Linked DNA regions of Homo sapiens. The protein of the gene in region 2 purifies or fractionates together with the protein of the main gene of each other region. This does not show direct contact. Each region holds a gene or a part of one and is shown on either strand. Other genes may lie near its edges.

Evidence for each region.
Region 1: the proteins of SLC41A1 (region 2) and FAF2 purify together in Homo sapiens (affinity purification with mass spectrometry; one large-scale study listed by BioGRID and IntAct). This does not show direct contact.
Region 3: the proteins of SLC41A1 (region 2) and HMGCS1 purify together in Homo sapiens (affinity purification with mass spectrometry; one large-scale study listed by BioGRID and IntAct). This does not show direct contact.
Region 4: the proteins of SLC41A1 (region 2) and HSD17B4 purify together in Homo sapiens (affinity purification with mass spectrometry; one large-scale study listed by BioGRID and IntAct). This does not show direct contact.
Region 5: the proteins of SLC41A1 (region 2) and CNNM1 purify together in Homo sapiens (affinity purification with mass spectrometry; one large-scale study listed by BioGRID and IntAct). This does not show direct contact.
Region 6: the proteins of SLC41A1 (region 2) and GOT2 purify together in Homo sapiens (affinity purification with mass spectrometry; one large-scale study listed by BioGRID and IntAct). This does not show direct contact.
Region 7: the proteins of SLC41A1 (region 2) and UBAC2 purify together in Homo sapiens (affinity purification with mass spectrometry; one large-scale study listed by BioGRID and IntAct). This does not show direct contact.

Annotation. Positions count from the first base shown.
Region 1 is NC_000005.10:176,489,885-176,493,384, forward strand, and holds part of FAF2 (FAS-associated factor 2), read left to right. Parts: intron 1-2,309; coding exon 2,310-2,448; intron 2,449-3,500. UniProt on the Homo sapiens protein: Plays an important role in endoplasmic reticulum-associated degradation (ERAD) that mediates ubiquitin-dependent degradation of misfolded endoplasmic reticulum proteins.
Region 2 is NC_000001.11:205,799,699-205,803,198, reverse strand, and holds part of SLC41A1 (solute carrier family 41 member 1), read left to right. Parts: intron 1-2,138; coding exon 2,139-2,246; intron 2,247-3,368; coding exon 3,369-3,440; intron 3,441-3,500. UniProt on the Homo sapiens protein: Na(+)/Mg(2+) ion exchanger that acts as a predominant Mg(2+) efflux system at the plasma membrane.
Region 3 is NC_000005.10:43,303,413-43,306,912, forward strand, and holds part of HMGCS1 (hydroxymethylglutaryl-CoA synthase, cytoplasmic), read right to left. Parts: intron 1-3,500. UniProt on the Homo sapiens protein: Catalyzes the condensation of acetyl-CoA with acetoacetyl-CoA to form HMG-CoA, which is converted by HMG-CoA reductase (HMGCR) into mevalonate, a precursor for cholesterol synthesis.
Region 4 is NC_000005.10:119,525,497-119,528,996, forward strand, and holds part of HSD17B4 (peroxisomal multifunctional enzyme type 2), read left to right. Parts: intron 1-420; coding exon 421-527; intron 528-1,636; coding exon 1,637-1,723; intron 1,724-3,500. UniProt on the Homo sapiens protein: Bifunctional enzyme acting on the peroxisomal fatty acid beta-oxidation pathway.
Region 5 is NC_000010.11:99,335,856-99,339,355, forward strand, and holds part of CNNM1 (metal transporter CNNM1), read left to right. Parts: intron 1-3,500. UniProt on the Homo sapiens protein: Probable metal transporter.
Region 6 is NC_000016.10:58,720,817-58,724,316, reverse strand, and holds part of GOT2 (aspartate aminotransferase, mitochondrial isoform 1 precursor), read left to right. Parts: intron 1-414; coding exon 415-571; intron 572-2,038; coding exon 2,039-2,167; intron 2,168-3,500. UniProt on the Homo sapiens protein: Catalyzes the irreversible transamination of the L-tryptophan metabolite L-kynurenine to form kynurenic acid (KA). As a member of the malate-aspartate shuttle, it has a key role in the intracellular NAD(H) redox balance.
Region 7 is NC_000013.11:99,378,854-99,382,353, forward strand, and holds part of UBAC2 (ubiquitin-associated domain-containing protein 2 isoform 1 precursor), read left to right. Parts: intron 1-3,500. UniProt on the Homo sapiens protein: Restricts trafficking of FAF2 from the endoplasmic reticulum to lipid droplets.

The DNA.
Region 1 (3,500 bases), on a different chromosome or scaffold from region 2:
GTTGCAAACACTGGAACCCTTTTATGTATATACCCACTTGCTTCATACCTTCACCTTTCTTCTAGCTTCCTTCATGTACCATTAAAAGAGCTCATCATTGGAAGCTACAGAGGGTCCAAGGCCAGAAAATGAGTGGGGCTCAACTGGCCGGGCTCTGTGGCTCACGCCTGTAATCCCAGCACTTTGGGAGGCTGAGGTGGGCGGATCACAACGTCAGGAGATCAAGACCATCCTGGCTAATACGGTGAAACCCTGTCTCTACTAAAAATACAAAAAATTAGCCGGGCGCGGTGGCTGGTGCCTGTAGTCCCAACTACTCAGGAGGCTGAGGCAGGAGAATGGCGTGAACCCGGGAGGCGGAGCTTGCAGTGAGCCTAGATCGCACCACTGCACTCCAGCCTGGGTGAGAGAGTGGGACTCCGTCTCAAAAAAAAAAAAAAGAAAAAGAAAAGAAAATGAGTGGGGCACAACTTCTTAGCATGTCAGGCTTGGGTTATCTGGTCCAGAGCCATGTCTAGGCTTTATGGGGAACTTAAATGTTCAAGGGCATCCAGGCCAGCAGATGGAGCTGGGATATGTAGTCTGGGCCTTCCCTGGAAGTACAGGTTCCCTGTACTTCCCTTCAAATATGGGACAGCCTTTACCCTGCCTCTAGGGAGCAGAGGCTGAAGTTGTGGGTCCAGCAGCTGCATAAGTACAAGGGTCAGATAGTACCTTTTATATTGGACCCTTGGTGTTTTATGAGGCTGTCTACTTAATGGCTTTCTTGGTTTAGCAACATTCTTCATGATCACTAATTGCTTAGTACTCTTTCCATCCCCATTTTATTTAAGAATGAACATGTAAAAATCTTTAAAATCATAATGAAAACTAAGTTGACATCTCTGTTTTTTTCTAAAAAATCAAAAAAGCTGATTGTCCTAAATTGTGTAGATCGTGGGAATATTGTGTAATGAGGAAAAAAAAATAAAGGCTTTAAGAGAGAATTCTAAAATGCTTAATTTCAAAGAAAGTAGTTAAAACATCAGTCTTCTGATGAATTTCTAACCATTCCCCCACGTATACAACTTACTACATTTTGTGCTTTTAATTCGCTCTGGAACGTTGTTGTCAATGAATTTGGTTTGATTACTCGGGAGAAATTCCAAGTAGAATTGTATACACAGGGGGAATTTGTTGGGATAATGAATTGACTCACTTTTTGTTAAGGAAAAGTATCACAGTTTAATCACCTTGTCTGTGCTGAAAACGTTTTAAGTAAATGAATATTGTTTGCTTTTCTAGGGAAAATATGCACGGCATGTATTACTAATTTTAATGCAGCTGTATCATCCAACCAGCTTGTTTAATGTTAGGTAACACATTATCCTCTGTCCTGTTGCCTTCTCTGGAAACCCAAAGGATAAATAAATGGTACTATACAAATAGGGTAGGCCCTTTAGAAACAGATGTGTGGTACCATTAGGTATGTATTCTTCACTTTACAAGAGCTGCCAGTACTCCACATCTGCCAGGGTACTGTGGAGCAGTTTTATAACTTCCTCCATGGTTGCCATCAACCATAAATCATCAAGCAAAAGGTACTTGCCCCTTTGAAGAGCAAGTAAGTCATAACCGCAACTTCAGATTTGAAGTTCCTATCCGTAAGTTGAATAGTTTGGGGTTGTGAACTCAATATTTAAAATCCCAGGAAAACAGAAAGGAGAAGGAGGGGCAAGTAGGACAACCAGAAAATGACCTCTGTTCTAGAGCACTGTCCAGTAGAACTCTCTGTGATGATAGAAACGTTCTGTATCTCCGCTGTTCAGTATGAAAGCCATTAAACACGTGGCTGTTGAGCACTTGAAATGTGGCTAGCATTACTAAGGAACTGAATTTTAATTGTATGTAATAGATTTAAATTCAGAATAGCCACATTTGACTAGTGGCTACAGTACTTAGACGGTGCCATTCTAGAGAGTCTGGGTGCATAGCCTGACACATGATCTTTTTGGATACTGTGTCTTCCCTTCCAAACCCTTCTAGCCCTAAATTGTTCTACAAAAAATACTCAGGATTTATGTAGGCCAGTGTTGGAATTTATAATCCCAGTAGTTTGCATTCTTCCTGAACAGGCAATAGAATAACACTTGCTGCTTTATGGCTTTTGAACCAGACTCTACTCTCGGATTTGATGGTCCACTCACAGACTGTTCACCTCCCTTTGTTGCCGTGCCTCTGGCTCTGTTACAGGAATCTGTACAAATTGGCCCACTCGATATGCACTGTAGTAAGCTGGATTCATGTGATATTTATTCCTTCCTCCCCAGGTTTGCTCTTCGTTTTATACGGCCTGACCCTCGCAGCCGGGTCACTGACCCCGTTGGGGACATTGTTTCATTTATGCACTCTTTTGAAGAGAAATATGGGAGGGCACACCCTGTCTTCTACCAGGGAACGTACAGCCAGGTCAGTGCCATAAACCATATAGATGCCAACTTACCGAAATGATTCTATCCTCAAAGGAGAGCACAGCCCAGCACTGATCATGTCCTTCTTGTACTCAAAAACCTTAATTAGCTCTTCACTGCTTATAGGGGTGGGTAATAAAAAAGACCAAACCTTTTAGCTGGCCCCTCTTTGATCTAATGCTGCCCTTCTTTTGAGGTCTTTTCTGCATAACTTATTTTACCATACCCTCAGTTCCAGCTGACTCATTCCCTGAACATAGTCTGTACTTGCCTACCTCTGTGCCTTTGCTTTTGCCGGTCCATCCACGTGGAATGCCTTCCTCACATTTTTGCTAATTGGAATCTTGCCAGTCCTTCAACTAGATTATGTCACGCCCCACTTACAGCTATCCCTGATTGTTGTGCCCTGTCCTGCCCTATCTCATCATCTAGAATACTAATCTTTCCCTTTGTTCTTCCATAGCTTTTAAAAATTGATAGCAATTTTATATTCTTTCCTATATCATTTGTGTTCGTGTCTAATCTCTGCTACCAGACTGAAAGCCCCTTGAAGGCAAAGCCTACATCTTCTTTGATCTCTCACAGAATTGAATAAGGACATAGACCATAGACTCAGGGTAGCACATCTCATTCAACCTCAGCCATGTAGACCTTTGACTCAAGACCTCACCATTCAGGGGAGGAAAAATTAGAGTTCTGTGGGTGTTTGGTATATCTCTAGTTTGCCAGAGAAATACATAGAATTAACACTACAGGAATAGGGAAAACTATGGGAATGCTGTGGCAATAGGCAAAAGGGGGTTCTATTATGCAGCCTCCAGAATTCCTGAATCTATCTGGAGAAAGAAAAATGCTCACCCTTGCTTCCTGCTTTCATTTTCCCACATCTGCTTTTTATCATAGTCAGTCTCCTCGCTGGCTGTTCCCACCACACTCAACAAAAACTGAGCACCTACTGTATGCCAGGCAATGTCCTCAGTGCTAGAGATACAGAGATGAGTGAGATGAGCACCTCCTGTGTACCCTCTCTGCTATGATCCTGAGGGTAGA
Region 2 (3,500 bases):
TCCAATCTCCACATGCTTTTTTCTTTTCTTGAGACGGAGTCTTGCTCTGTCACCCAGGCTGGAGTGCAGTGGCACTGTCTCGGCTCACTGCAACCTCCAACTCCCAAGTTCAAGCAATTCTTCTGCCTCAGCCTCCCCAGTAGCTGGGATTACAGGTGTGCGCCACCATTCCCGGCTAATTTTTGTATTTTTAGTAGAAACAGGGTTTCACTATGTTTGCCAGGCTGGTCTCCAACTCCTGACCTCAAGTGATCCACTTTCCTTGGCCTCCCAAAGTGCTGGGATTACAGGCATGAGCCACTATGCCCAGCCCAAACTCTACATCCTTGCTAACACTGATTATTTTCTGGGTTTTTAAATAGTAACCATCCTAATGAGTGTGAGGTGATCTCTTACTAATCTACAGTATTGCTCAACTTTATTTTATCTATTTTATTTTATTTTATTTTATTTTATTTTATTTTATTTTATTTTATTTTTGAGACAGAGTTTCACTCTTATTGCCCAGGCTGGAGTGCAGTGGTGCGATCTTGGCTCACTGCAACCTCCACCTCTTGGGTTCAAGCGATTCTCCTGCCTCAGCCTCCCGAGTAGCTTGGGATTACAAGCATGTGCCACCACGACCAGCTAATTTTTGTATTTTCAGTAGAGACGGGGTTTCTCCATGTTGGTCAGGCTGGTCTCAAACTCCTGGCCTCAGGTGATCTGCCCGCCTCGGCCTCCCAAAGTGCTGGGATTATAGGTGTGAGCCGCTGCGCTCGGCCACTGCTCATCTTTAACGACAGAGTGTGGGTGTTGGAATTGCCTTGAAAGACCATCTGATCTGGTCCCTGAATTGAACATTTTTCAAGAGCTTGAGGCCCTTGTAACTTGTCTAAGGTGTCCAGCCGGTCTACGTGAGGAGGTGTACTGGGGAGATAAGCAGGGGGCCATCCCTGCTGTCTCCTGTAGGAGACCCAAGGCTCTTGGTCCAGTGCCCTTGCCAAACATAGTGCTTGGCCTCCCAGCCATGATACGCAGACCAACCCATATATATCCGCCTGGCCTCCTGCCTCCTCCTCCCTCTCCAAACCTGGAGGCTTTCCATTCTTAAAACAAATAAAAGAAACCACCTACCCTGTTAGGGCCAGGGAGGGAGACACAATCCTAAACCTTTTTGCAAGTCCTCAGTTTCAATTGCAAGTAAAGTAGCTTTCAAATAGCCAGTCCTGGTTCCTGCAGTCCTCTTAGCACTAACTAGTGGAATACTGTCTGAACCCCAGTTTACTCATTCACAAAATGAGAATAAAAATAGCCCCTACCTTACTGGGTTGTTAAGATGATTAAAAGAGAAAATACATGGAGAGCACTTAGCCTAGCACACAATCAGTCCTTAATAGATGTTAACCAAAGACATTGGTAGGAGAGCCAGGATTGATTGTCTTGGGACTAGAACTCAGGTCTCCTGACTCCCGGTCCAGGGCTCTTCCTACAGGAGTACACTTGCTTCTCCTAGCTGAGAGATTGAGGAAGGTGTGTGGGGGTAAGGCAGTGCACAGAGAAATAAAAAGCCTCTTGCAGGCCAGCATTCAGAGGTTTAGGGGCCACAGTCTTAATTCAGAGCCTGTTCAGAAGGAGAGTTGCTGTGGCTGAGGCCCAAAGCCCTTGGAGATAGAAACCAAACAAACTCTCTAATCTCCCCAGCCTCGGCCCCAGCCCTGTGGAGCCCAACTCTTCACAGCTGAGACAACAGAGAAACTGGACTGAAGGCAAAGGGGCCAGGGATTGCAATTTGAGGGGGGATTGCAAAGGATTTCTGGGGTGTCAGGCAGCCCAGGGCAGCTCAGCTGTGTGGGTCCCCATTACCCTTCCCCACCCACCTCCAGGAAAACAGAAAAGGTAGGGCCAGACTGAGAGTCTCCCAACCGGCAGAAACCCTCTCCATCTCCCTGGTTCTGGGTGGCAGGAAGGGGGGTTGTGTTGTTTGAAGAATCATGGGCTTGGTTTGGTTCCAAGGTTCTTGGAGGAAAGGTGGCTGGCGTGCTCACTCCCTGCTGATTCTATTTCCTCCTCGAGCCCCTGATCTCAGACTACCTGTTGAACCTCAATGCCCGCCCTTTGGGGCACTGAAATTCCTGGGTTCTGTTTTCACCTCGTAGCACTGGGAAGTCTTCCAGAAGGTGACAGAGGTCTTCATCCTAGTGCCTGCGCTGCTGGGGCTCAAAGGGAACCTGGAAATGACCCTGGCATCAAGGCTTTCCACTGCAGTGAGTATCCTGGCTGGGAGGAGTGGGGCACAGAGAGGACTCTGGGCAGCACAGAGCCAGAGACTGGGAGAGGGCTACGAGCCCTTCTCCACTGCCCAGGCCTGGAGTGTGGGGCTGGGGTGGGAAGGGAGGGCCTGGCTGGGCAGGTGTAGGGAGATCCCAGGCTGGGTGTCCTGCTCCTGGGCAGGGGCTCCCTGCCCAAAGTGGTTCCCAGGCTTGGTTTCTGGATGTCCCAGCCACCCCTGGACTCCTGCCCCACCCCCTACCTCTCAACCACCTCGTGACTGTTTGTGCAGCTTTGACAGGCAGGCATCATGCTGGTTCCTCCACCCGCACAGATGGGGGCCTCCTCTGATCTCCAGCCCCTGCTTTGCAGCTGGGCGGGAGCAGAGCCAGGCCCTCCCAGCACCCCCAGCCCCCCGGCCATCCCATTCCCTTTACCCATGGCAGCTTGCTCTTCTTTAAGGAAACAGACAGAGAGGAGCTGCTCGTCATTCCTACCTCCCACAGTTGTGAGCCGTGACGATTCCGGGCCTGAACAGATACAGGGCCCTGGGCTGGAGGTGGGAGATGATAAAACTCAGGAGGCCAGGGATCTCCCTGCAGGGTCAAGAGTCTAGAGAAGGTGACAGACAGAAGTGGCATCCAAGTTAACCCACCCTGACTTGCCATACCCGACTTCTGGCCCATGCCACCCACTCCTTCCCAAATACTCTTGGAGCCTCAGTCCTGCACCAGCAGCTGACCTTTCCTTCCCTGGGATCGCAGGCTGGCTTCAGAGTCAGGGACTGGGTTGTTCTGACCCATGCAGGAATGGGCTGCCCAGATAAGCAGGGCAAAGGATAGAATTTGCCTCTGCTCAGCTGGTGTCCTGAGAGGAAGAGAGGCGACTGCCTAGGGGACCCCCTTCCAACCCCCCACCCAGCTGCAGGAGCCCAGCTTTAGCTCCTTCCCTTTCACCTCAGTTTCCCTGATCCTGCTTCACCTTTCCGGGACTGTCAGGTCCTGCTCTCAGAGTCTTAGGCCACATGTACTGCCTCATGATCTAGGCAGGAGCCTAATGGATGGAGCTTCAGGCCTTTTCCAGCCTGAAGCTCCAGCCCCTTGCCCTCCCTTTCCCAGGCCAACATTGGACACATGGACACACCCAAGGAGCTCTGGCGGATGATCACTGGGAACATGGCCCTCATCCAGGTAAGAAGGCAGGGACCAGAGAGGGTGGGCTAAGCTTCCCCTTAGTCAGGAATCTCTGAA
Region 3 (3,500 bases), on a different chromosome or scaffold from region 2:
ACACGGGCAATCCAGGAGGAGAGCCCTGATCGGGAACCAACCACGCTGGCACCCTGACTTCCAGACTGCAAACCTATGAGATCATAAATGTCTGCTGTTTAAACCACCTACTCTATGGTATTTTGCTGTGGCACCTAAGCAGATTAAATAGTCTGGTCACCTCAACTAAGTCCAAGCTCCTTAAGGTCTCCTCATGTCTTAGACTACTGTATGGCCCATTTTACCAGACATAGCATATATACCGCTGCTACTCAATTCCACAATGGAAAGAAAAACTCCTAAACACAACAGTCTACTTCCGAATTATATCCTCTTGATTCCTAAATTACTGGCCATATTTTTGTATTCAATACAGGAAAAACAATGTCATCACCAACATTCAGGGACAGGGGCATAAAGAAAGACTAAGGGAGGCTCATTCTTGTTAAGACCTAAAGCTGAGGAGGGTAAAGATAAGGCTTTTACATTCCTACTCCATTCATCTTCAACTCCTTTCCTGTGTCTACAACTCAGATGGAGGACTACTGATTTTCTGGATATGAAGCACTTGAAATGTTCTACATCCATCCTCACTCTGAGCTTCAACAAACTCTCCCCATCAATTTTTTGATAAAGTTGGTGCCCACTTTGCTGAATTTGAAATGAAAATATAAAAGGGCTGCCTAATATGCCACTAGGCATGGATTCTAAGTTTATAGTAAAATAAGATACTGGATAGTCCACAAGAAAGAGCCCTACAACTACTGTTATCAGAAAAAGACTAGTCCATAGGCTTATAAGCTCCTACATATGATCTCTTAAGTCACCAAAGTAGGAGTAACCACCTTTCCAGCCTTTCCCACAAGGCTACCCTTTAGATTCTTTTCAACTCTTCAAACTGCTTTAAATATGCTGAAGACAGTATGGTCTTCCTTGCCTGGCTCAGTGGTTTTTAACACTATTGGAAATAAAGTGAACAGGGAATATATCTTTTTGAAGGTATAAACCAGTTTGCAATATACTTGTACTCACTAATAAATTCACTTTAGTCTTTTAAGAGCATCATGTAGCAACACTGGCAATATATTTAATTATCCTTATAATGCTTGTACAATTCTCTATAAAAAGTTATAATGCAAGGCTTCCATTTCAGAATTAATCTGTATTTGTCACAGTCTGACCAGCTCTGATCAATTCTTTGTATTATAGTACTCCTAAAATAAGATACAACTCTATGACTCCTAAATGTCCTACATTAAATACATGACATGTTTCATTTGAAAACAAACAAAAAACGTAGGTTAACTAAAATAACCCACATACATCAAATGGAAAGTGAAACACAATTCTGACTTTGATGGAAAAAAACATTTTTACATTGTCCAAGTCAGTCAATATTACTCATTCTCTGAGGGTTTCTGACAGCCAATGTGTTTTCCATTATGTTCTTGGTAAAAAGCCATCTAATCTGAAATATTTAGCCTTTGGTTCAAATTCAGAAAGAGAGTGATTAAGTTGACAGGAAAATTAATACAGAGAAATAATTGCTTTCATGACATTTAGAAGAACAGAAAGTTAATAGTTTCTGGTCTCAAATGTTACTTTTTTTTTTGAGACGGAGTTTCGCTCTTGTTGCCCAGGCTGGAGTGCAATGGTGTGATCTCGGCTCACTGCAACCTCCGCCTCCCAGGTTCAAGCGATTCTACTGCCTCAGCCTCTCAAGTAGCTGGGATTACAGGCGGGTGCCACCACACCCAGCTGATTTTGTATTTTTAATAGAGATGGGGTTTGACCATGTTGGTCAGGCTGGTCTCAAACTCCTGACCTCAAGTGATCCACCCGCCTCGGCCTCCCGAAGTGCTGGGATTACAGGCGTGAGCCACCGTGCCCAGCAAATGTTACTTTTAACTATCCTATTGAGCATGTGCTCTTACATTGTCCTTTCAAATGCTCTCTGAAATAGGCTAGATATAGTTAGATATAAATTAGGGAAAAAAAGACTAGCTACAGGTCTGAGGTGCTCACATTATGGTATTCACTCTTTACCCTACCAGAGAATAGAATATTCTGGTTAATTCACTATTTAAGAATAAAGAGGCCGGGTGTGATGGCTCACACCTGTAATCCCAGCACTTTGGGAGGCCGAGGTGGGCGGATCACTTAAGGTCAGGAGTTCAAGACCAGCCTGGCCAAAATGGTGAAACCCCCTCTCTACTAAAAATACAAAAATTAGCTGGTTTTGGTGGCGGGCAACAGTAATCCCAGCTACTTGGAAGGCTGAGGCAGGAGAATCACTTGAACCTGGGAGACGGAGGTTGCAGTGAGCCAAGATCTGAGCCAAGATCGTGCCACTGCACTCCAGCCTGGGTCACAGAGTGAGACTCCGTCTCAAAAAAAAAAAAAAAAAAATTTAAAAAATTTAAAAAAAGAGATAAATCACAAAAACTTTCAAGTAGAACATAATTTTAAAAATCTGATGGTTAAAAAAATTACGTTTTTAATTTTTTACAGATAATGCATTTTATTATTTTCAGAGTACTATATTCACCATAAAATAAGTCTAAAGAGAATAATGAGGACTCTGTATTTATAATAAAATACACACATTTTCTTTTTAAATTCTATCCTTAAAAAAGGCGAGAAAAGGCAACTTTCAGAGAACTTTGTAAACCTTTCAAGTCTTCCAACAAAGTAGTACCAACAGAGGACTAAAGTCTTAAATAAGTCTCATTAAAGTGAAGGCTCACTCCCTCTGGTGGACAAAAGAAACTCCATATGCTATTTCCAGAATCAGTAAAGCAAGATAAGGAAGCCTTGTTAATGTTTTCTGAATGCTTCCTGCCTAGAATACATAAAAGACCTATATAGTTATTCTGAGAATAAATCTGGAAATGAAAGAGAACTGGAAAGGGGAAAAAAGGGGGAGGGAAACTAGCTGATGATACTGGTGCAAGGGAAGTCCTAACCTAGCTCCTCAATGGCTGTGTTGGGGAAGGACTTCAGCATCAGTCTCTCCTAAGTGAGCTCTGCCTCTGCTCTCTTCTCTGTCATAGGCCAACAGTTTTTTCCAAACTGCATGTCTAACCATTGTCAAGATGCTGCAGGTTGAGCATTCCTAATACAAAAATGCTAAAATCTGAAATGCTCCAAAATCTGAAACTCTCTGAGCACCAACATGATGCTCAAAGGAAATGCTCATTGGAACATTTTGGATTTTGGATTTCCAGATTAGGGCTGCTCAAATGGTATGTTTTCTCAAATATTCCAAGACCCAGAAAAATCCAAAATCTTTAACATTGCTGGTCCCAAGCATTGTTCAGATAAGGAAAATTCAATTTATATTTCAAACTGCCAAGTTTCTCCTCTATTATTTAGGCTTAGCCTCTCTGCATTAAACAAGGAGCTTTTGGAGAGCAGGAACCGTGCTTTGTTCATTTTTGTGTCCCCGGTACCCAACCCACTGTTTGGCATATGGTAGATGCTAATGTTGAATAAATGAAATGGTACTAGACTTCTAATCT
Region 4 (3,500 bases), on a different chromosome or scaffold from region 2:
TCCCGCTAGTGCGAGGTCTAGGATAGGACCACGAGGGTGGGTGTGTGAGTTATCACAAAGGACAAGGTCATTGGAGAGAGAGCAAGGAACTGAAAGGTTAGGGAAGGATCATGTACCTGTGTGGATGTTGAGAGTACCCTGGATGATTTCATGGTTACAACCAAAACTAAACAAAACAATTGTGTTTCCAGATCTCTCACATTCTTTTCCTGTTTTGTTTTTTTTTTTTCTTTCTTTCTTTATTTCATAATTTCCTCCCAGGAAATACTCTTTAAAAAATATCTACTGTGTTTCTTAAAATAGATGGTATAATTCCTGCTAATGCAGTCTAAGGACATTTTTAAAGTCCTGAATTAACTACACTTGATTTTTAAACTTTAAAGGTACCTGTATCTAACTCAGTGTTCTCTCTTTTCCTAGGTTTTGACAAGCCCATATTACATGGATTATGTACATTTGGATTTTCTGCCAGGCGTGTGTTACAGCAGTTTGCAGATAATGATGTGTCAAGATTCAAGGCAATTAAGGTAAATGTGTATTACTACGTAATTTGAATATTACTTCCTTTTTCTATCTTTAGAGAAGAAAAGGGGTTTTAGTGATTTAATTGAAAATAGATATTGTACTACAGCAATGTACATTTTTATTATTTCATTGACCTGGCAATCAGCACACTTTCTTTTTGTAGCTATAAATAGCTCTGTTGCACATGCACCAGGAAGGATGCACAGTTGCAATTTTGACAGATTAACTGGGTTGCTTTATAAATTAATTAGGTGCATATATTATATATATATATATCAGTACGTATGCCTTGAAAACTCAAGATTTGCTTTTTTTAACTGTTTTATCATTTTCATTAATTTAATTAAAAATGTTAAGTGGCTGATTAAGTCCAATAAACATACATCTACAGCAATATAATGACTGCATATTGTTTTAACTCTGTACTTTTTAGTTGATTTCAAATTTTTATCCATTATAAATAACAAGGAAAAATATCCATGCCCATATTATTTTTGTGTATGTTTAAGCCAAAAGATGTACACTTAAAAAAGTTTAAGGGGTTGTCAAATAGCTCCAAAAGCTTTTAATTTATCCTCCATGCAGTAGTGAAAATATATTTTCTGATGCATTGCCTTTGATAACACTAATTACTCTCATGCTTTTCATTTTGTTACAACTATTTTTTATTATCCAGTAATATATACACAGAGAAAATAATATAAAAAATTATGAAATAAAAAGTGGAATTATTTTGCCCTGCATACTCACCCCAGGCCTCATTCCTTAGACTTAATTTGTACCACTTTTAACTGTTTCTTTAAGTTGTTCTGATGTACCTATATAACTCACCTAATATGATTATGGTTTTATTTCTTGATTTGTCAAGATAAAAAACACTATTTTTTGATTCCATACTTTGAAAGACAAAGAATTGGCTTACTTATATTAGTTACATCTTTATTTTACTAATTTTATCATATTATACTTAGGTCTTTTATGAATTTAAATATCTTTAAACCTTGATTTTTTTTTTCTTTTGTGCTCTCTAGTTTCCTTTCCAATTTTTTCCTCCTACAAGTAAAAGAGTTTCCTTTTAAAACATTTTTAACCCCACAATTCTTTTTTAAAGGCTCGTTTTGCAAAACCAGTATATCCAGGACAAACTCTACAAACTGAGATGTGGAAGGAAGGAAACAGAATTCATTTTCAAACCAAGGTATGAATTTTGCTTTTTCACCCTTCTCACATGCTTTATCATTGTGTTCCATCTTACCATTTTTTTTTGGTTAGTACTATGGATAGAAAGTTCTTTTTAAGTAATGGTAAATTTTAATTAAAAATAAGATACAGCTTGTCTGGTGTTTTCAAAATTTTTATTTATCAGGCAACACTTAATAAAATAGAAGTGTTTTGCACCCTGTGTTTTATTTTCTCTTTTATTTTCAACTAAATTGGTAGCTATCTATGTAGCAGTGGCCCAGCTATTCTGAAAACCCAGCCAACCATGTCTTTTTGGCTCAACTAGTCAATCAAGTCATTGTCAAAATATCATCTTAAAAAATTTAAAGGCATGACTCAGACAGATATACAGTGAAAACATGACAGAAATCTATCTGACTCATTAATGAAGGATCTTGCAATATGATAAAACATGTTCGAAAAAAAATTAGAACAACAGTTTATATGGTCCAATAGGAAAGTTATTCTAAAATAATTTTGCAGAGTTAGAGACAAAATTAGTTAATATCCTATAGAACAATAAAATCTTATCCTTTATGAGTTTTCTCTGGACAGAAATCATATGCATCTTGATTACACAAAAAATCCACAAATTAACAAGTTACATCACAGAGTCTGGGCCTAACAAATAGTAAATGAGGTTATTTTGGGGTGAGGCTGTTAGCAATGCTCCAGTAAAATACTAAAAGGACATGCAATCATTGTTTTATTTGCAAGTTATTAAAAGACAGTTTTTGTTAACACAGTTGACCAGGCTAATACTTTTTGGCTTGATCATTTCATGCTATATAGAGCATATTAAACAACTCCAATGATAATAGGAACAGCTTTCATTTATTGAGAACCTATAAACTGGCAATAGTATTTTCTTTAATATGCATAATAAATCTGTATGTAAATATAAGAAAATCTAGGTTCCTAAGAAAATCTAATCTAGGTGTCCTAAATAACTTGCTCATGGTCACACAGCAAGTGGTTGAGCTGGGATAGAAACCCGATCAGCATGGCTTCAAAGCTTTGATTACAGGCCCCAAATGTCTTTTCTGTATCATGTTTTCTTTCACAAATAGATAACTGCAAAATTCTTCTTACATGGTTGCTTTACTCCTAATTCCTTTCTGCTGGTTGCAATATCATTTTCCTGCTTAATTTGTACATATTGTTTATTTTACTTTTCAAATTCCTCCTGTCCTTCAGGCTTAAGTTCAAGCTCCACTTTGCTCTTAGAGACAGTCTCTTACTATTCCCCACTTTCCTACCCATAGATACACTCAAATTGGTGTTCTCTGAAAGCCTTTGCAGCTAATATCTGTGCCACATATTTTGGAGCCCTCACATTTTCTAATTTGTTTTGTATGAGTAAGTTTTGCTTTTTGATTAAGATTATGAACTCTAAAAGTGTTAAGGACCATGACTATATTACAGGTTTTTATTTTCCTGCAATTCTGGTGATGAATAGTATGTAAATAATTTCTATGGATACAAACTTGAAGGGCTGAGAAATGATTAAATGTCTAAATATAATGTATTCTTGCCATTTTGTTAAATTCTAAGCATGCTGTCTTATCTTTTCAGCATATTTGCTATATTTTTCTTCAGTGATTATAGATATTCTTTTTCTATTAGTTTTAGGACTCCTTCTCTCCCTGCCTCCTTTTCTCACTTTCTCCCTCCCTTCCTCCTTTCCTTTCTATTCTTAAGATATAAGAAACATTTTAAACCAGTGTTTTAAAATGATTTGCTTGATTTGGTAA
Region 5 (3,500 bases), on a different chromosome or scaffold from region 2:
CCATGGCCTTTCCTCAGTGCCTGTCCACAGACAGCAAGAGGCTCTGGTCCTCTCTTCTTAGAAAGACATCAATCCTGTTGGATTAGGGCCCACCCTTATGCCATCATTTAATCTTAACTACTATACTTCCTTAGAGGCCTCTCTGGGTGTCGTTAGGGCTTCAACATATGAATTTTGTGGGAAGACAAACATTCAGTCCATAACAATCACCAAAGCTGGCCAAATAATTGGATGCCAATATTGCATCCAACTGCAGTCATGTCATTTTGGTCAATGATGGACTGCATGTATGATGGTGATCCCATAAGATTACATTGGAGCTGGAAAATTCCTGTCACCTAGTGATGTCCTAGCAGTCATAACACCTAACATCGTCCTAAGGCAACACATTACCTTTACTATGTTTAGATACGCAAATACTTACCATTGTGTTACAATTACCTACAGTATTTGGCACAGTAACATGCTCTACAGGTTTGTAGCCTAGGAGCAATAGATTATAACATATAGCCTATGTGTGTAGTACACTATATCCTCTAGGTTTTGTGTGACTACATTCTATGATGTTCACACAATCATGAAATTGCCTAGCAATGAATTTCTCAGAGAGTGTCTCCATAGTTAAGCAGTGCATGACGATTTCTTAAATCTGTACATAATTTAATCCACTATTTGTTCCACTTAGGTTATTCACTGATTTTATTCAACAAATAGTTGTGTTGGCACAGTGGAGAACATCATCAACATAGTCCTTGTCTCTATAGAGCTTCACTCTAATACAGGAAACAGAAATTAAACGAACAGGATAGTGATTAAGAACATAAGATTTGGCCAGGCGTGGTAGCTCACTCCTGTAATCCGAGCACTTTGGGAGGCCGAGACAGGTGGATCATTTGAGGTCAGGAGTTAGAGACCAGCCTGGCCAACACAGTGAAACCCCGTCTCTACTAAAAATACAAAAATTAGCCGGGCAGTAATGGTGCACACCTGTAATTCCAGTTACTCAGGAGGCTGAGGCAGGGAGGTTGCAGTAAGCCAAGATCATGCCACTGAACTCCAGTGGCAACAGAATGAGACCCTGTCTCAAAAAAAGAACATAAGACTTACTAGAATGCCTGGGTTGATACTGGCCCTGGGCAAATTACTTAACTGTTTATGTCTGTTTCATTAGCTGTAAAATGAAAATAATACTAATATTTACTCATAAGATTGTGTGAAATATTAAGACTATCGCATTATGCTTACTTACTACCTGTCATGTAAGTACTAAGTAGATGTTAGCTATGATTATTAAATATAAACACAAGTCTATTACTCATTTATGCAAATGCCTCCTAAGAAGTTACACTTTTTCACATTTTTGTCTCCCTCAAATTCGTTCTCTCTAGTGCCACTAAAATAATCTCCAGTAATGTCACTGCTTAAAACCCTTCAGCAGCTCCCCGCTGCCTACGGGAGAGAGGCTAAGCTGGTAAGGCAGCCAGCAATGCACTCATGACCTGCTTCTTGCCCTCCCCTCCAGCCTCATCGCTCACCACTCCCTGCCACAGCTTTACCCTCCAGCAATGCTGAACTCTGTGGTGCACTGTGCTATTCTTGCCTTTGTCCCTTTATTCACATTGCACTTCTGTCAGGAATATGCTTTGCCTGACTAATTCATTGCCAGCTCTTTGACACTCAGCTCAGGGGCCTCCTCCTCTGGGAGACTTCTCCTGTAAACCCCAAAATACAAAAATAGATTTTTTGGCCAGCTTCATTGTTTTATGTGCATATCTCAATCATTGAACTAACAAGCTGTACTACCAGTGTTTGTTTATAAGTGCCTCCCACCCATATAATGAGCATCTCCAGGGCAAAACTGTCTTATCTGTCTTTGTAGCTCCAGCAGCTAACGATGCATATGACACATAGTAAATTTTCAATGAATGTTTGTTTAAGGACTGAATGGATGACTTAAGGAGTTAAACTTTAATATAATGGAAGAGATCTGCAGAGCACTAGAAAATGAATTAAATCATTTTGGACTATGCAGCAGAACAAATCAAACTTATAAGTTTGTTAGTGTTAGAAGAAAAGTGTTGCATCTATTGTTTCTCAGCTTCTTTAGGTACATCTATTAATATTTATTACAACAATTTCTTTTCACATGTAAAGCACTGTGCTAAGAGTTAGGGGTATGAGATAAAATCTCTGTTCCCAAAGAGCCTAAAGCATAGTGGATGAATAGCACTTCCCTTTGCAAAGCTAGAAGGCAAGCTGGACACTCACCTTTCCCATGACTTCCAGTGACCTTGAATTTACAAGTCATGTCTCAGTATATAAGTACAGGATATGGGTAAGACAGACCTTGGTACATAAAGCATTAAAATGAAAGTGCTATACTAGAAATGCAAAAATGCAATGGGAACATGGAGGATACAATAACTATGACTAGGTGGCATTTTTTTTTTTTTTTTTTGAGATGGAGTCTCACTTTGTCGCCCAGGCTGGAGTGCAGTGGTGTGATCTCGCCTCCCAGGTTCAAGCGATTCTCCTGCCTCAGCCTCCCAAGTAGCTGGGACTACAGGCATGTGCCACCATGCCCGGCTAAATTTTTGTATTTTAGTAGAGACGAGGTTTCACCGTGTTGCCCGGGGTGGTCTCGAACTCCTGAGCTCAGGCAATCCGCCAACCTCGGCCTCCCAAAGTGCTAGGATTACAGGTGTGAGCCATTGCACCCAGTCATATTTTGCTTTTATAAATTTTTTACTGAAGTTTATGTTTCTATAATTTATACAGAAAAAAATTTAAATATAGAATAGTAGAAAAAAGAAGTATGAAAATCATATGAGGATAATCATCCCACTATCCTGAAATAGTAACTCAATATTTTGTCATATTAAAAATATATTGCACATAATAACAATCTTAATGAAATTCTTAAAAAGAAAACAAAAGGAAAAGCCCATTGTCCTGCCATCAAGCACAAATCAAATGTCCCATTCTAATCTTAAGAGTGATTTTCTTATAGGGTGGTATTTTTGCTATAGTTTCCTCAGGGTTGAGTGCTATAATTTGGGAAGACTAATTTTAAAAATGGAGCCGTAGAGATTTATCATACTTCTTAAATTTACTACTCTATTATTGGATTGCTTTTAGGAGACACTGAGTTCTGTATAGACAACAGGGGAAAGGAATAAAGCTTTGTTCTGAAGTCAAAGCTTCTGAGTAATACAGCACTGACTGACATTTAACTCAATTAAACAATTCAGCTTTGCTGGGCTAGTAACACCATCTTTGCAAACAAAAAAGCACAACCCACGTATGCTAGGCTGCTCCACCTGTACACTAGCATGGCTGTAACACAGCCTACTGCACAATCCATACTCAGTCTTTGCTTATTCATTGATTCATTCAGTAAACATTTTTTGAATTCCTGCTTTGGGCCAGGCATTACACTAGACTCTGGGAATACAGTGGTGAGCTAGGCAGACATTATGGAGCTAAAAATATCCTCTTCC
Region 6 (3,500 bases), on a different chromosome or scaffold from region 2:
AGCGAGACTCTGTCTCAAAAAAAAAAAAAAAGTTTGTCAGAATAGCAATTCAATTTTATTTAACACAAATTTGTATTTTTCATAATTTTAAATATATAAGAGTAATATGGCCGGGTGCGGTGGATCACTTGAGGTCTGGAGTTTAAAACCAGCCTGGCCAACATGGTGAAACCCCATCTCCACTAAAAATACAAAAATTAGCTGACGTGGTAATGCATGCCTGTAATCCCAGCTACTTGGGAGGCTGGAGTGGGAGAATCACTTGAGCCCAGGAGGCAAACGCTGCAGTGAGCCAAGATAGCACCACTGCACTCCAGCCTGGGCAACAGAGCAAGAGTCTATCTCATAAATAAATAAGTAAAATGGATCTTGGATCTAGCTAATGGGATTGAGCTAATGTGTTTCTCATTTCAGCTCCTGGTGGACCCATGTGGAAATGGGACCTCCAGATCCCATTCTGGGAGTCACTGAAGCCTTTAAGAGGGACACCAATAGCAAAAAGATGAATCTGGGAGTTGGTGCCTACCGGGATGATAATGGAAAGCCTTACGTTCTGCCTAGCGTCCGCAAGGTGAGCTTGCTGTTCATCTCCTTTTGAATGGGATGAATAAACTGAAGAGAGCCCTGGAGAGTGGCAGGAATAGTGCTGGACCGGGAATCAGGAGCCCTGGGCTTTAGTTCTGGCACTAATGGCATGAATCACCCGGGTTTTCTGGGCTGTAGTCTCCTTGACTGTAAAGGTGAGAGGTTGGAACCACCTGTTTTTTCCCAAGATTGAACTTTCTATGGTTCTGTGATCATCTATAAAACAGACATTAAATACGCTTTAGAAATGCTTAGCTATGCCTACTTTAATCCTGAAGGTGCATAAGAGGACCAAGACTTTAAGCGCTGTCTCTTGTTGAGAGGAATAGCTCTTCGTGGATTACTATTTTTATTTTCCATTTCTCTAACTGTGATTACTTTAATCAAACCTTTGTACACAGGCATGCTCTGTCCTTTCTTCCTGCTGAGCTATGCAATTTTCACCTCTTTCTTTTGTTATATTTTTATTAGTAGCATCTTTATTTGTTAACTAAATAATATAACAAATCCCCTTAGAATAATTTTTTAAGTTATTCAGCAAGTATTTGCTACTGCAACCTGCATCACTACCAAGCACTATTGTACATTCCCTCATTCACACTTCACCTCAACACTGTGAGAGGTAGAAATAGTTCCTCCATTTAACAGAGGAGGAAACTGAGGCTCAGGAAGGCTAAATAACTTGCCTAGGGTAACACAACTTGTAAGGGACAGCCAGGCTTCCAATGCCAAAGCACGAAGATGTGTGGCTATTACTGTTAACACTTCGAAGTTCTTAGACTGGCATATAGCTTGACATGCTTTCTCTTTTGTATTTAGTTTGATTTAATCATCTTATATCTATTTTAGGTGTTGCTCTTAAACCTTGGTCTTGTGCATTCCAAGAATCTCATTTTATGTTAAATTGTAACCAAGAGAGACTATACCCATCCACATAAAACCTAACTTAAACAATAAAATACAATTTGAAAAAGAAAGTATTTCTGTTCTGCAATACAAACTATCAAGCATTCTACCTACCCTTCTTCTCAGAGAGTAACTTCAAATTTTAAAAAAAGGTTTGGCCGGGCGCAGTGGCTCATGCCTGTAATCCCAGCACTTTAGGAGGCCGAGGCAGGTGGATCACCTGAGGTCAGGAGTTCGAGACCAGCCTGGCCAACATAGTGAAACCCCGTATCTACTAAAAATACAAAATTAGCTGGGCGTGGTGGTGCACGCCTGTAATCCCAGCTACTCGGGAGGCTGAAGCAAGACAATCACTTGAACCCGGGAGGTGGAGGTTGCAGTGAGCCGAGATCACACTACTGCACTCCAGCCTGGGTGACAGAGCAAAACTCCATCTCAAAAAAAAAAGACTTTACCTCCAAAACTTAACTTATAAAACTTTAAACATTAATCATAGTAATTCCAAGTAAGGAGAAGAAATTCAATGGATGTATTTTCTCTTGTCTAGGCAGAGGCCCAGATTGCCGCAAAAAATTTGGACAAGGAATACCTGCCCATTGGGGGACTGGCTGAATTTTGCAAGGCATCTGCAGAACTAGCCCTGGGTGAGAACAGCGAAGTCTTGAAGAGTGGCCGGGTAAGCTGAGCAGGCTCTGGCATCATCCCAGGTCTGTTTTAACAAATTTGTAATTATTTAAACAATTTTAGGCCAGGCGCGATGGCTCACGCCTGTAATCCCACCACTTTGGGAGGCCAAGGCGGGTGGTTCATCTGAGGTCGGGAGTTCGAGACCAGCCTGATTAACATGGAGAAACCCCATCTCTACTAAAAATACAAAATTAGCCGGGCATGGTGACACATGCCTGTAATCCCAGCTACTCAGGAGGCTTAGGCAGGAGAATCACTTGAACCTGGAAGGCAGAGGTTGTGGTGAGCCAAGATCATGCCATTGAACTCCAGCCTGGGCAACAACAGCAGAACTCCATCTCAAAAAAAAAAAAAAAATTTAAGAAATATGAAAAGATAACTCATTTTGTGTGTAATGATTGTTTTGAGGAGGCCACACTATTTCTAATAATTCTTATTTGATAGTAAATTGCCATCATTAAATAAAATAATTTACATGACACCAATTCCAAAAATGTACTAGTAGTAATCCTGAAAATGCGGTAGTCATTTGACTGATAGATTTGATGTTACTTTTGCTGTTAGTCTCTACCTGCTTATGTTCATTTTACATCAAATATGCTTTAGAAATGTTAACTATGCCGAGTTTTAAGCCTGCAGTTAGCCCACACCCTCATGTCCTAAGCTTCCAACTTGCACAGAAGCAGCAAGCAGGAAACAAGCCATGGGTGGACTGTGGGGGCTGGACCAGTCTGGCAGCCCTCTGCTGTCCCTTCACAGCCCACATGGACACAGAAAGAAGACCACGCTCCCAACATGTGAACTCGTGCACATTGTGGTTCACTTTCTTTTGAAAAAAACATGTTTTTTAGTGAGTGCATTTGTACGTTTTTCTGGGTAAGCCTGGGGAGTGAAGAAACATACAAACTAGCAAAATTAAGTCAACATTTTTTCTGCCCTTCCCCCTCTGAAAAGCCAGAATAAATACACTTTATTTACAAGACTGGTCTAAGTCCACACATGAATTCGTTAACTCAGAGTAAAGCACACAACCTCAACCCCAGGGTTATGTAGTAATTATCCTACGTCAAATAGAATTTGGTTTAGTTCTGTCCATACAGTCAACTGCCTGTTAGCCCCTCCTGGAAATTTCTGTACTTTTTAATTCATGTGCTCTTTTGCCTAGTCTCTGCTCCATCTAAATAACAACCTAAGTATGAAACTGGCCTACCTTAAAATAACATCAGCTTGTCTTTTATAAGTTGTTGTGCCTCAGCCGGGCGCAGTGGCTCACTCCTGTAATCCCAGCACTTTCCGGGACCAAGGCGGGTGGATCACCTGAG
Region 7 (3,500 bases), on a different chromosome or scaffold from region 2:
TATATTTATCCTTCATTGATCTAAGAATACCTTGGCCACATGGCTGAATTAATGGAGTCACATTTGGGGAAAAGTACATGGCATAAACATGATTTTTGATGAGATGTCAGCTGGAGGATGAACAGAAAAGTTGTCAAGGTATAACAAAATATTTCAGTCATCATCCAGCCCAGCTTCCCTGCAGTGAGCACAAGCCACAGGTCCAAAATGTTTGTGAGACCAATCAGAAAAGATATCCCTAGTTAAACATGCCTTTTTGTTAGCATAATAATGGTCTGGTAAGAAATTCGCTGCTTGAAAACAGCAAGGACACAAACTTTTGCCTGTCATGCAAGTTTACGCTTATGCATGCCTGCTGCATTAGCACATCCCAGCAAAGTTGTTCTGCCCTTGATGTCCTCAGTTCCTGGAGGGGCTGTCTCATTAGCTGTAGTTGTGTCTTTCTGGAGCAATAAAACCAAAACAGTGATGTTCCATCAGCATTATAGACTTGTTCTGGCATCAGATTTTTGTCAGCAATGACCTTGGCAAACTCACCAATGAATTTCTTTGCTGCTTCATGATGCTTTGTCACCACATTAAAAAATTTGGTTTCATGTTTTTTCTTAAATTTCTGCAGCCAACATGTTGAATATTCATAGTTCCTTTTCATTTTCAGTTCCTCATCCTGATAGATCCTTGCTTGTTTCCTGACCCACATAGCATTAAGTGGCAGGTGTTCACTGCAACACCAAGGGATCCATCCTCGGTACATGATCAGGATCTTCATTTTTAGCTTTATGCAGTGTTTCTCTATTTTTCATTAATTTCTGTTTATCACTTTTAGCACAGAACTTCAACAGTTTATCCTTCTGTTTCTTCAGATCCTATATGGTGGTCACTCCAACACCATACTCTCCTGTAAGACGTTTCACACTTACACTGCTCTCCACTTTCTCCAACAGCTTGACTTTCTGTGCTATAGATAAACATAAATCTTTTTCTTATCACTGTTACCCAGAGGGTATCTGCACACCTTTTAGATATTTTAACAACATTTTTATAACACAGAGCAGAAAGTAAGCAAAAAAGCACAGTGAGTGACGCACGTGGGTTTTGGCCCCATGCAGGTCATTGTGGGGAACCTGCCCACTGGCATGTGCTTGCGTGGGGGAGTCGGGGCATGTGCAGAAAAGGCATGTCACAGCTGAAGGAGGGTGAGAGGGTCTCTTTTCCCTTGGAGACACTGAATAAACTACATGTTGTGGCCTGCATTTTGACTGCAGCCCATCACATGAGGTCAGGTGTGGAACTTGCCATTTGTACTGCCATGTTGGTACTCAAAAAGTTTCAAATTCTGGAGCATTTTCGATTTTGAATTTTCAGATTAGGAATGCTTAACGTGTGTTTTGCTTACCTGACTGCACGTCTGCGCAGGCCTCAATTTCGTCTTTCTGTAATTTGAGCACAGGAGTTGATGCTTCACATGCCGAGTAAGCTTTCCCAGGAGAGACCGTAATGAGATGTGTGGGGACTGGGCGTGCTGGGCTTCTCTGAGCAGAGGAATAGTGAGAGCCACAGCAGTAATTGTTAGTGTCCACCAAAGAGCCCTACAGACAACTGTTCTCTGTGCTGCTAGTTTTTGCTCCAGTTCTTACTGTCTATATGGTGAACCTCTGAAACTACATAAAGAAAGGACAGCAGGGGCCACTTGGCTAACTTGCACGGCTGTGAGCACTGCACTGCACCCCTCCACTGGGGAGTATTGGGTAAGCACCCATCGGAACACCTATCCCCTGACCCTTCTCGTCCTTGCTGGCTGGTTGTCATCGCATACCCAAGCCCAAGCATGCAGTTTCAGTTTGCCATGGATGTTTAGTTTTGGACACTATGGGAAACCTTCAGGTGCCCTTTCTTAGTGTAATTGTTTATTCTTTTTAAAGAACTGTGCTAACATTATTGCTACTTAGCAATAGTTTTTAATCTGGTGAAAATAACAGGTCAGTGGGCAGTGAAAGTTCTCCTGTCACACTTGTCTTCTCACCCATAAAAATCACTTAAAGCTCTGAAGCCAGCTTTGGCTAAAGGGGCATGATCTGCCCCGCAGAGGATGAAGAGCGAGCCCGCTGCAAGCTGTGACAGCAGACGCTCTCTTCTGCCAAGACCTGTGAAAAGCCAGTCTTAGTTGTCAAAACCAGCACCGCGGCACATGTCGTTCATGTCTGAGAGAATGAACTCAGAAGGAAGTCTCGTGTACATAGAAAGCTTTCGTTCTTACTCTAGGATGTCACCTACGTGACTTACAACCCAGCCCAGCCATCCCAGACCTAAGGGGTTCTTCCCTCTCCAGGGCAGGGCCTGCATGCAGTCCATGCTGCTGCCCTGTGTTGGTGACCTGTGTGTAGCCAGCCCATTATCAGCATCCTGTGGATTCCAAACCAAATGTATCATCAGTGGAGGGAGAGCTCAAGTGCCAGGTGGAGCTGTGGCCTAAAGTCACACTTCATCACTCCAGATTATGAATCGTCATTTGCCAGATCTCCAAATTGCTGAGTGTGGACAGCAAATGGATTCGTTTGTGCTGGCTGGGTGCAAAGAAGCAGCCAGTCCTCAGCTGCACTTGAAGTACTACAGGTAGTAGTAAAGGTAGCTTTTCCAAGCCGTTTAAATAAACGTCATTAAGAGTGGCCAAGTTGTTTGGGGGCCATGGCATCATGGTGGTGGATAGTAGGTGGAAGGAAGGCAGGCCAGCTCCCGTTTGGCCTGAGTTATCTCCACCAATGACAATGGTCCTTAACTGGAGGGAACATCATACAGGTTATTTCCACCCAAGATTGGAAAGACCACCTTGATCAGAGAGAGTTTTCCTTCCACATGACACATATCCAGCCTGAGTCCTCCAGCCCCTCTCCCTGCACAACCTGATGGAGGCTTGAGAAAGCACAGGGAGGAACACTTAGCTTGAAAATGTTCCTAAGGAAAAGGAAAGTGTGAATTCTGAGAACCAAGTGGCAGAATTGAAGTTTCACATCTGGCAAAAGCTTAAACAGATTATTATCAAATAGATGGTTTGTGAACGTTGAAAAGACAGCTGTGGTCTAGGACACCAAACCAATCCTGTTGGCAAGAGATCACCAAGACCTTTGACAACATCTCATCAGCTTATGAGAGATGTTGGTGACATGCAGAATGGATAATGATAGTGCAATGAAGTGGGTTTGAAACTGATTAAAAATGTTGATTAACCCCTTGAACACAGAGTTCTGGGCTCTTTGACCTGACGTGTTTGACATTTTCATCAATAATAACTTGAACAAAGTTGTAGAGGTTTACTAATCAAATTTAGGCATGATACAAGTTTGAGGGAGATGATTAACAGTAGATAACAAAATGAGAATTGAAAATAATTCATTTTGGTTGACTGGAAAATGATCAGATGGAATTTAACAGAGATATGTAGAGTCCTAGACTTAAAAGGTCAGGTAGGATTTGAGAGACCTGACTTGACAGCATTTTATGTG